Linked DNA regions of Homo sapiens. The protein of the gene in region 1 interacts with the protein of each later gene in a pairwise test. Each region holds a gene or a part of one and is shown on either strand. Other genes may lie near its edges. The genes, in order: PSD and RAB40C.

Region 1 (3,805 bases):
TTGTGGGGGACAGAGGGGCTCAAAGGAGGCATCCTGGGGCCCTAACACGAACCCCGGAGAGTGGGGGCTGTCCTCCAAGGGGTCAACACCCACCTGAGAGCTTGGTCCAGAGTCATGCCCGTGAAGACAAAGAACTTGAGGTACTCCCCAGCCACCAGTTTGCTGAAGTCATTGCTGTGGGCAGGGCAGAGAGACAGGTAGGGTCTCAAGGGGAAGTGCAGGGGGTCAGGTGGGGATTACCCAATGACCAGGGGACATTAGATGGAGAGCTGCCTTCAGGATGCATTCCCTCTGCCCCCATCCTCAGTCCCAGCCTAGTGGCTTTACTTCTTGCCCAGGTGCCGGGCCACATCGGCCTTCCTGAAGCCATCTAGTCGGTACAGCCTCTTGGCCAGGCGCTGCGCAGCCTCCAGGTCCGCTTTCTGCCCATTGGACAAGGTGTCTGTGCTTCCCAGGGCCAGCCGCTCTGTGCTGTCCAGCTCTGAGTCTGAGTCGGACACCAGCTGGCTCAGGGGTGGTTCGCTGCCGGGGTAGAACACCAGCTCAGGCTGGGGCAGGGTCCTTAGGAGCCATCCAGACCCTCCTTCTGCCTCCAGGCCCAGAAGATGGAGAAGGGGAGGGAGTGGAGGGACATGGGGAAAGCATTCTTCTTTTTTCCAGGGAAGGAGATTAGATTCTCTCCATCAGCCTACTCCATCATTACCACCTCTCTGTGGAAGTCCTGCCTCAAATCTAACCCACATCCGTCTTGCTGCTGTGGGAGTTCTGGCTGCTTCCTCAAGCTCCCAGGGGCCTACATTTGCTATTAGACATAGATTATCTGTTCCCACCCTGGCCCTACACAGAACATAGTCCTTTGTCTCTTAGACTATGGACAAAGCTGGAATAGATGGGCTACCACGGAGGAACTGTGGAGGGCCAGGGAAAGATTTGAGGGCAGCAGGGATACTGGTCCGAAGGCTTTCCCCCTCCTGCTTTTTAGGGAGAGGAACCTCTCCTTGGTGCTCCCCCTCTGCCCACACAGAAGCAGGCTCTGGAGTTAGGGGGTTAAGGGTCGGGGTGCATACCCTCATTCCCTTTCTTTCCTCCCCTTCCCACCCCAGCTGCTCTACTCGCAAAGCCACCTGTCAGCCCAGAGACAGAGGCCGGAAACTCCTGGTTGCTAGGCAACCCGGTCTCCCTGGCCACCCCCTCCTGTTGCCATGGCTTCCATGACTGAGAGGGTAGCTGGCAGAGGGGAGAGCAGAAAGGTTAGACTGTGAAAGGACTTCCTGGAGCTGGACGAGAGATGCCTGATTAGGCAGGGGTGACATGGGAGGGAGGCAGTGGGAGAGGCTGGTGGCTGCATCTTTGGTGAAGCCTTCAGGCTGGGTGAGGGTAAGGTCACAAGAATTCTGAGCAGGCTAAAGACTCTGCCAAGGGAAGAAAGGGCCCTCCAGGAGAGCAAGAAGGGTATTCTCCTGGGATCCTTCAATGCTGAATCATGCTTTCTCAAGCCACTGGACTTGAGACCAAGAGGGGTGCTGTGAGGGACTCTCCCTCACAGCTAATGGCAGTAGTCCTCCAAATAGGAAAACAGGATCTGCATCCCTTAACCACCCCTACTCAGGGGTCAGGAATATAAACCAATCCTCACACTCAGGATCTGTCCCTTACAGCAGCTGTTTCTGGAGCCCTGGGGGCCTCAAGTCTGAGGGACAAAAGGAATTACTTACCTGCCAAGGGGTGCTGCCCCCAGCCCAAGGCTGTCCTCTGAGTGGCAGGGACTAGGGGGCTCCCTCCCTGGGGCCAGCTTGGCTCTGGCCTCTGCCTCCTCCTCCTCCCCTCTCTGTGTCCAAGGACCATCAGCAGCAGAGCTGGTACCAGAATCCGGTTCAAGAGGGGCAAGTGGGGCGGGAGCTGGTGGGTCGGGCCGGGGTGCAGGGGGTTGGGGAGGCAGCTCAAAGGTGAAGAAGGGGCTCTGGGTTGGGCCAGGTGAGGCCAAGGCCTCCAGCGAGGCGAGGCTGGTATAGGAGGTGCCTTTGGCCCGGTGTGACTCCAGGATGGCTTCGAACACACAACTGAAAGAGTCAGGCCCATCAGCCGAGGGGCTCGTCCCAGGTAGAAAGGGCACAGGTGACTTGAGAGGCATCCGGCTCCCTGGCCTGCAGGGGCAGGGAGAATCTCTGATTAGGGGCCCAGATCACAGGGCTGGGGCAGGATTTCACTGAACTCTCACACTGACTCTGCTAAGGGGATTATCATCCCCTTTTCACTGGCTCCAGCCCACTAACAAAAAAGAGCCTCTAGGGTAGGGCGCCAAGCTATTCAGTGCCCCCTGGGGCACACCAGCCCTACCAGTCCCCAGCACCCCATCCCCTCCCTCCCTGCTAATCTCCCTTTCTCCTCCTTTTCCGTGATCCGCTTCCCTTCTGCCATCCCATTTCTATTTCTAGCAACATCTTAGGAGAAGATGAGGCTCCAAGCGACACTGGGGTGTGAGACGGAAAGGAATGTCCCCACACTCCCCACTCTCCCACCAGGATCCAGGATCCAGACTCATGCTCCTGTGTTCCTGGGCTTGACTGTGGCCTCTGGCCTCTCACCCTGCCCCCTGTTCTGCTAGAACCCCTGGCCTCTTTGCTCCCCACATCCCCAGTGTTCTGCCAAGCCTCAGGCCTCTGTCTAGAATCTCCTGCTATACACACTGCCCCGCCAGCCCCACACCCATCTCTATCCCAGGCCCTTTGAGCCCGGCTCTGCCTGTGGGCCAGTGCGAAGGAGCAAGCCGCTTCCCTCTCCCACTTCCCCCTCCCACTTCCCCACTCACCGGGCCCCTTCAGAGGCCTCAAACACCTCGTCGTCCACATCTTCTTCCCCACCTGCCTCATCGTCGTCCTCATCCTCATTGCCACTGCCGAGGCTGGGATGAGGGCCAGGGAGTGGGCCGGGCCGTGGGGCAGGTGGGTAGGCAGTGCCTGGTGGGCCCTCAGAGCTGGGCTGACTTTCGATGGCCGAGTCGGCCTCCTCCCGCTCAGCCAGCACCTCATCGATGTCAGTCTCGCGGTAGCACCTCAGGGGCACCGTGTCCAGGTCTGTCTCGGAGTACTTGGCTGCTCGCCCCACAGCCACCCCAGAGCCCTGCCTTGAGCCCACCCCAGGTGGAGATGGGGGGGCCTGCTCTGGGGGCTTAGCACCTGTAGTGTGCATAGGCATCCAGGTCAGGAGGTTATCCACGTCAGCTCCCTGTCCTAATTCTGCTCTAGGATCTCTGCCCACTGCCTCATATTGACAGGAAGTTCTTTCACTGTCTAGCCACCATTCCTCCTGCTACATACTTAGCTTGTTCCTGGTGCCAGTGGAGCTCATTTTAAATCAAGTTCTTGTCAAATGGCTTTGAGGAGCTGGGGGAAGACCAGCCTTTTTCTGTCTTTTTTATTTATTTATTTATTTATTTTGAGACAGGGTCTCACTGTGTCACTGAGGCTGAAGTGCAGTGGTGCAATCATAACTCACTGCAGCCTTGACTGCCTGGACTCAAGGGATCCTCCCACCCAACCTCCCCAGTAGCTAGGACTATAGGTGCACACCACTACATCCAGCTAATTAAATTTTTGGTAGAGACTTGCTTGTTGTCCAGGCTGGTCTTGGACTCCTGGCTTTGAGCAGTCCTCCTGCCTTGGCCTCCCAAAATACTGGGGCCACTGAGCCCTGCTGAGCCTCTTTTCTACTCCATGGAATGCCCCTCAATATCCTTCTGTCCCCTCCCTCCATTACTCAGCTTCCTCCAGGTGCCCTGCCCAGTCCTATCCTCCAGCCTCCCATC
Region 2 (3,805 bases), on another chromosome or scaffold:
GGGCGTTTGGAGTAAGCAGGGAAAGGTGTCGGCGTCCAGCATCCTGGTGCGGAGAACGCTGCCGAACCACTGTGAGAAGGCGGGGAGACTGCTTGTCAGGCTGAGCTGACTTCCTGGGCGGTCGGGAGAAGGATGTGCAGACTGTGGAACTGGCGGGTGTCAGGGACCAGAAGTTACGAAGGCGGTGGGAAGAGGAGCAGCTGTGGGAAGAAGGACTGGCTGCCAAGACCATGGGCTGTGGGCATCCTCAGGGCAGGAGCTGGGTGGAAGAGGGGCCTCTTCAGTCCTCTTGGCAGTGAAGGTAAACAGATGTCAGCAGGGTGGACTCGCACTTTGAGCCTAAGGTAGCGAGGAGGCTTCTGAGCCGACCTGGGGATGGCGGCGCACTCTGATACAGGCAGTGCGCGGCTGTCTCGTGCTGAGATCAGGATTTTGAGTAAAGCAGAGATTTCTGGACGTTTGTCCTTCAGAAATTAGCGGAGGGACAAGGGCATTGGCGCTGTGGAGAGGTAGGGACCCATGGGTATGGGGCGGAAGACCAGGGCACGACCAGACACCGCCAGGGTGCTGCACATGTAGGTAGCAGGGGGAGGTGGTCCAGGCAAGATGGGATGGGAGGGGCTCAGGAGCAGCCAGGTTCTAGTGCTGGTGATGAGGTGGGTGGTGGCAGGGGCATGTGGAAGGGTCTTCTGACCATGGCTTACAGAGGGCTTGGTGCTGGGGGGCCTGGAGTTGTGGAAAGGGTGAAGGGAAGAGTTGGTCCCATATTCCCAGATGGCAGAGTGGAAACAGAAGCACTCGGCCCCTGAGCAGCCTTCGCCGTCTTTACAGTGAACACAGTCCTCAAACCAAACTGGGAAGGATTCGAATCCTGGATGGGTGATGTGGTCCTGGCTGTGTAAACTGACCCTGATGAAAGACATGCCCATCCTGTGAGAGGGACAGCCATCTAGCATCTTTTTTTTTTTTTTAATTTTTATTTTTTGAGACAGAGTCTTGCTCCGTTACCCAGGGTGTAGTTCGATGGCACTATCTTGGCTCGCTGCAACCTCTTGAGCCTCATGGGTTCAAGCGATTCTCCTGCCTTGGCCTCCTGAGTAGCTGGGATTACAGGCATGCACCACCACACCTGGCTAATTTTTTACATTTTTAGTAGAGACAGAGGTTTTGCTGTGTTGGCCAGGCTGGTCTTGAACTTCTGACTTCAAGCAATCCGCCCGCCTCAGCTTCCCAAAGTTGGTGGAATTACAGGCATGAGCCACTGTGCCCAGCCCAGCTCAGCATCTTTGGAAAAGAGCAGAGGGCTGGGCACGGTGGCTCACACCTGCAATCTCAGCACCTTGGGAGGCCGAGGTAGGCGGAGTGCTGGAGCCCAGGAGTTTGAGGCCAGCCTGGGCAACACAGTGAGACCCCATCTCTACAAAAAAAAAAAAAAAAAAAAAAAAAAAGGCCGGGTGCAGTGGCTCACACCTGTAATTCCAGCACTTTGGGAGGCCAAGGTGGGTGAATCACGAGGTCAAGAGATTGAGACCATCCTGGCCAACATGATGAAACCCCGTCTCTACTAAAAATACAAAAATTGGCCAGGCATGGTGGCTCACGCTTGTAATCCCAGCACTTTGGGAGGCCAAGGCAGGTGGATCACGAGGTCAGGAGATCAAGACCATCCTGGCTAACATGGTGAAACCCTGTCTCTATAAAAATACAAAAAATTAGCTGGGCATGGTGGCGGGCACCTGTAGTCCCAGCTACTTGGGAGGCTGAGGTACGAGAATGGCGTGAATCCAGGAGGCAGAGCTTGCAGTGAGCCGAGATCACGCCACTGACTCCAGCCTGGGTGACAGAGCGAGACTCCACCTCAAAAAAAAAAAAAAATACAAATACAAATACAAAAATTAGCCGGGCGTGGTGGCGCATACCTGTAGCCCCAACTACTTGGGAGGCTGAGGCAGGAGAATTGCTTGAACCTGGGTGGCGGAGGTTGCAGAGAGCTGAGATTGTGCCACTGCACTCCAGCTTGGTGACAGAGCGAGACTCTGTCTCACAAAAAAAAAAAAAAAAAAAGAAAAAAGAAAATTAGCTGGGTGTGGTGGTGCACGTCTGTAGTCCCAATTACTTGGGAGGCTGAGGTGGGAAACTCACTGGAGCCTGGGAGGTGGTGGCTGCAGTGAGTCTGACTGTTGCACTACGTTCCAGCCTGGGTGACAGAGTGAGACCCTGTCTCAAAAAATAAAAAATAAAGAAAAGAGGATGGAAGAAGAGAAGAGCTGAGTCCTGGAAATGGGCAGGTACTTTACAGTTTGTACAGCGGCCGGATGTAAGAACCTCATGTCAACCCTGAGTGAAGGTGTAGGCCGGGCGGTCAAGCACAGCACTCTCCAGCAGCTCCAGCAGCGTGGGTAACCCGGTGGGAGCCTGTGTGCTGCTTTCCCTGCCCGGGGCCGGCGGCTGCTGCTGGGCTTTCGCCTGACTTCCTGGTCAGCAACGTTGTCGGCCACCTGGGCACAGCAGGTACAGCCTGTGTGTCAGACCTAGCTGGGAGGGGCGGTAATAGGGTAGATGACATCAGGATTCAGGACTCTGAACACAAACACAGTGACACTGATCAGGGTTGCCGAGGTGCTGTGTTTCGGTCCAGAAAGTCACTGCTGCAGGGGAGGGGAGTATGGTCACAGCCCAGGCCCCGGCCCCGGCCGAAGCTGCCACTGACAGGAGACCCTTCTCTGCCTGTGCCACCAGCTTTGCTCCGAGGGGTGTCTGTGTCCTCAGGCTCTGCCAAGGCAGTGTCAGGCTGATGCCTGCCCGTGTCGGCCGGCCACAGCCCTAGTGGCTGCCCGCAGAGTCTTGCGCCCACCTGATTCCTGCCTGAGAGGAGCCGCCAGGTCAGCTGATGCCAGCAGGACCCACTTCACCAGGTCAGCAAGGAGGAGGCAGCTTCCCTTGGGGCCACGCCGTGCCTCCTCCGTGTGCGCTGCTGCCATGGCTGCTTCTGTCGATAGGCATGTACGTGAAAATGCACACCCGTGGGTGTTCGCTACTGTCAGCGTGGATTCAGCAAGGTTTTGTTCCCTCGTGGCATCAGTCAGCGTGGATTCAGCAAGGTTTTGTTACCTCGTGGCATTAATCAGCGTGGATTCAGCAAGGTTTTGTTCCCTTGTGGCATCAGTCAGCGTGGATTCGCAAGGTTTTGTTCCCTCGTGGCATCAGTCAGCGTGGATTCGCAAGGTTTTGTTCCCTCGTGGCATCAGTCAGCGTGGATTCGCAAGGTTTTGTTCCCTCGTGGCATCAGTCAGCGTGGATTCGCAAGGTTTTGTTCCCTCGTGGCATCAGTCAGCGTGGATTCGCAAGGTTTTGTTCCCTCGTGGCATCAGTCAGCGTGGATTCGCAAGGTTTTGTTCCCTCGTGGCATCAGTCAGCGTGGATTCGCAAGGTTTTGTTCCCTCGTGGCATCAGTCAGCGTGGATTCGCAAGGTTTTGTTCCCTCGTGGCATCAGTCAGCGTGGATTCGCAAGGTTTTGTTCCCTCGTGGCATCAGTCAGCGTGGATTTGCAAAGTTTTGTTCCCTTGTGGCATCATACTCCTTTCCTGTTTGGTTTGGGACTCCCATGGCCCCCTTGATGTTGGAGCCTCTTCAGGTGGCACCTGCGTCCTGGGCTATGCCCTGAGTTCCCGGAGCTCCCTGTGTCCTGGAACAGTCTGTACTTCCAGCAGATGTGGGTCCTGCCTGCCCTGGAAACGGCCATCTCTCTGAAGAGCCTGTGTCCTCCTGGTGGGGAGGGATAGCTAGTATGTCAGCTTCTTAAAT

Evidence for each region.
Region 2: the proteins of PSD (region 1) and RAB40C interact in a two-hybrid assay, tested with the Homo sapiens proteins (one large-scale study listed by IntAct).

Annotation. Positions count from the first base shown.
Region 1 is NC_000010.11:102,412,054-102,415,858, forward strand, and holds part of PSD (PH and SEC7 domain-containing protein 1), read right to left. Parts: intron 3,177-3,805; coding exon 2,810-3,176; intron 2,145-2,809; coding exon 1,716-2,144; intron 523-1,715; coding exon 328-522; intron 175-327; coding exon 94-174; intron 1-93. UniProt on the Homo sapiens protein: Guanine nucleotide exchange factor for ARF6. Induces cytoskeletal remodeling.
Region 2 is NC_000016.10:596,517-600,321, forward strand, and holds part of RAB40C (ras-related protein Rab-40C), read left to right. Parts: intron 1-3,805. UniProt on the Homo sapiens protein: RAB40C small GTPase acts as substrate-recognition component of the ECS(RAB40C) E3 ubiquitin ligase complex which mediates the ubiquitination and subsequent proteasomal degradation of target proteins.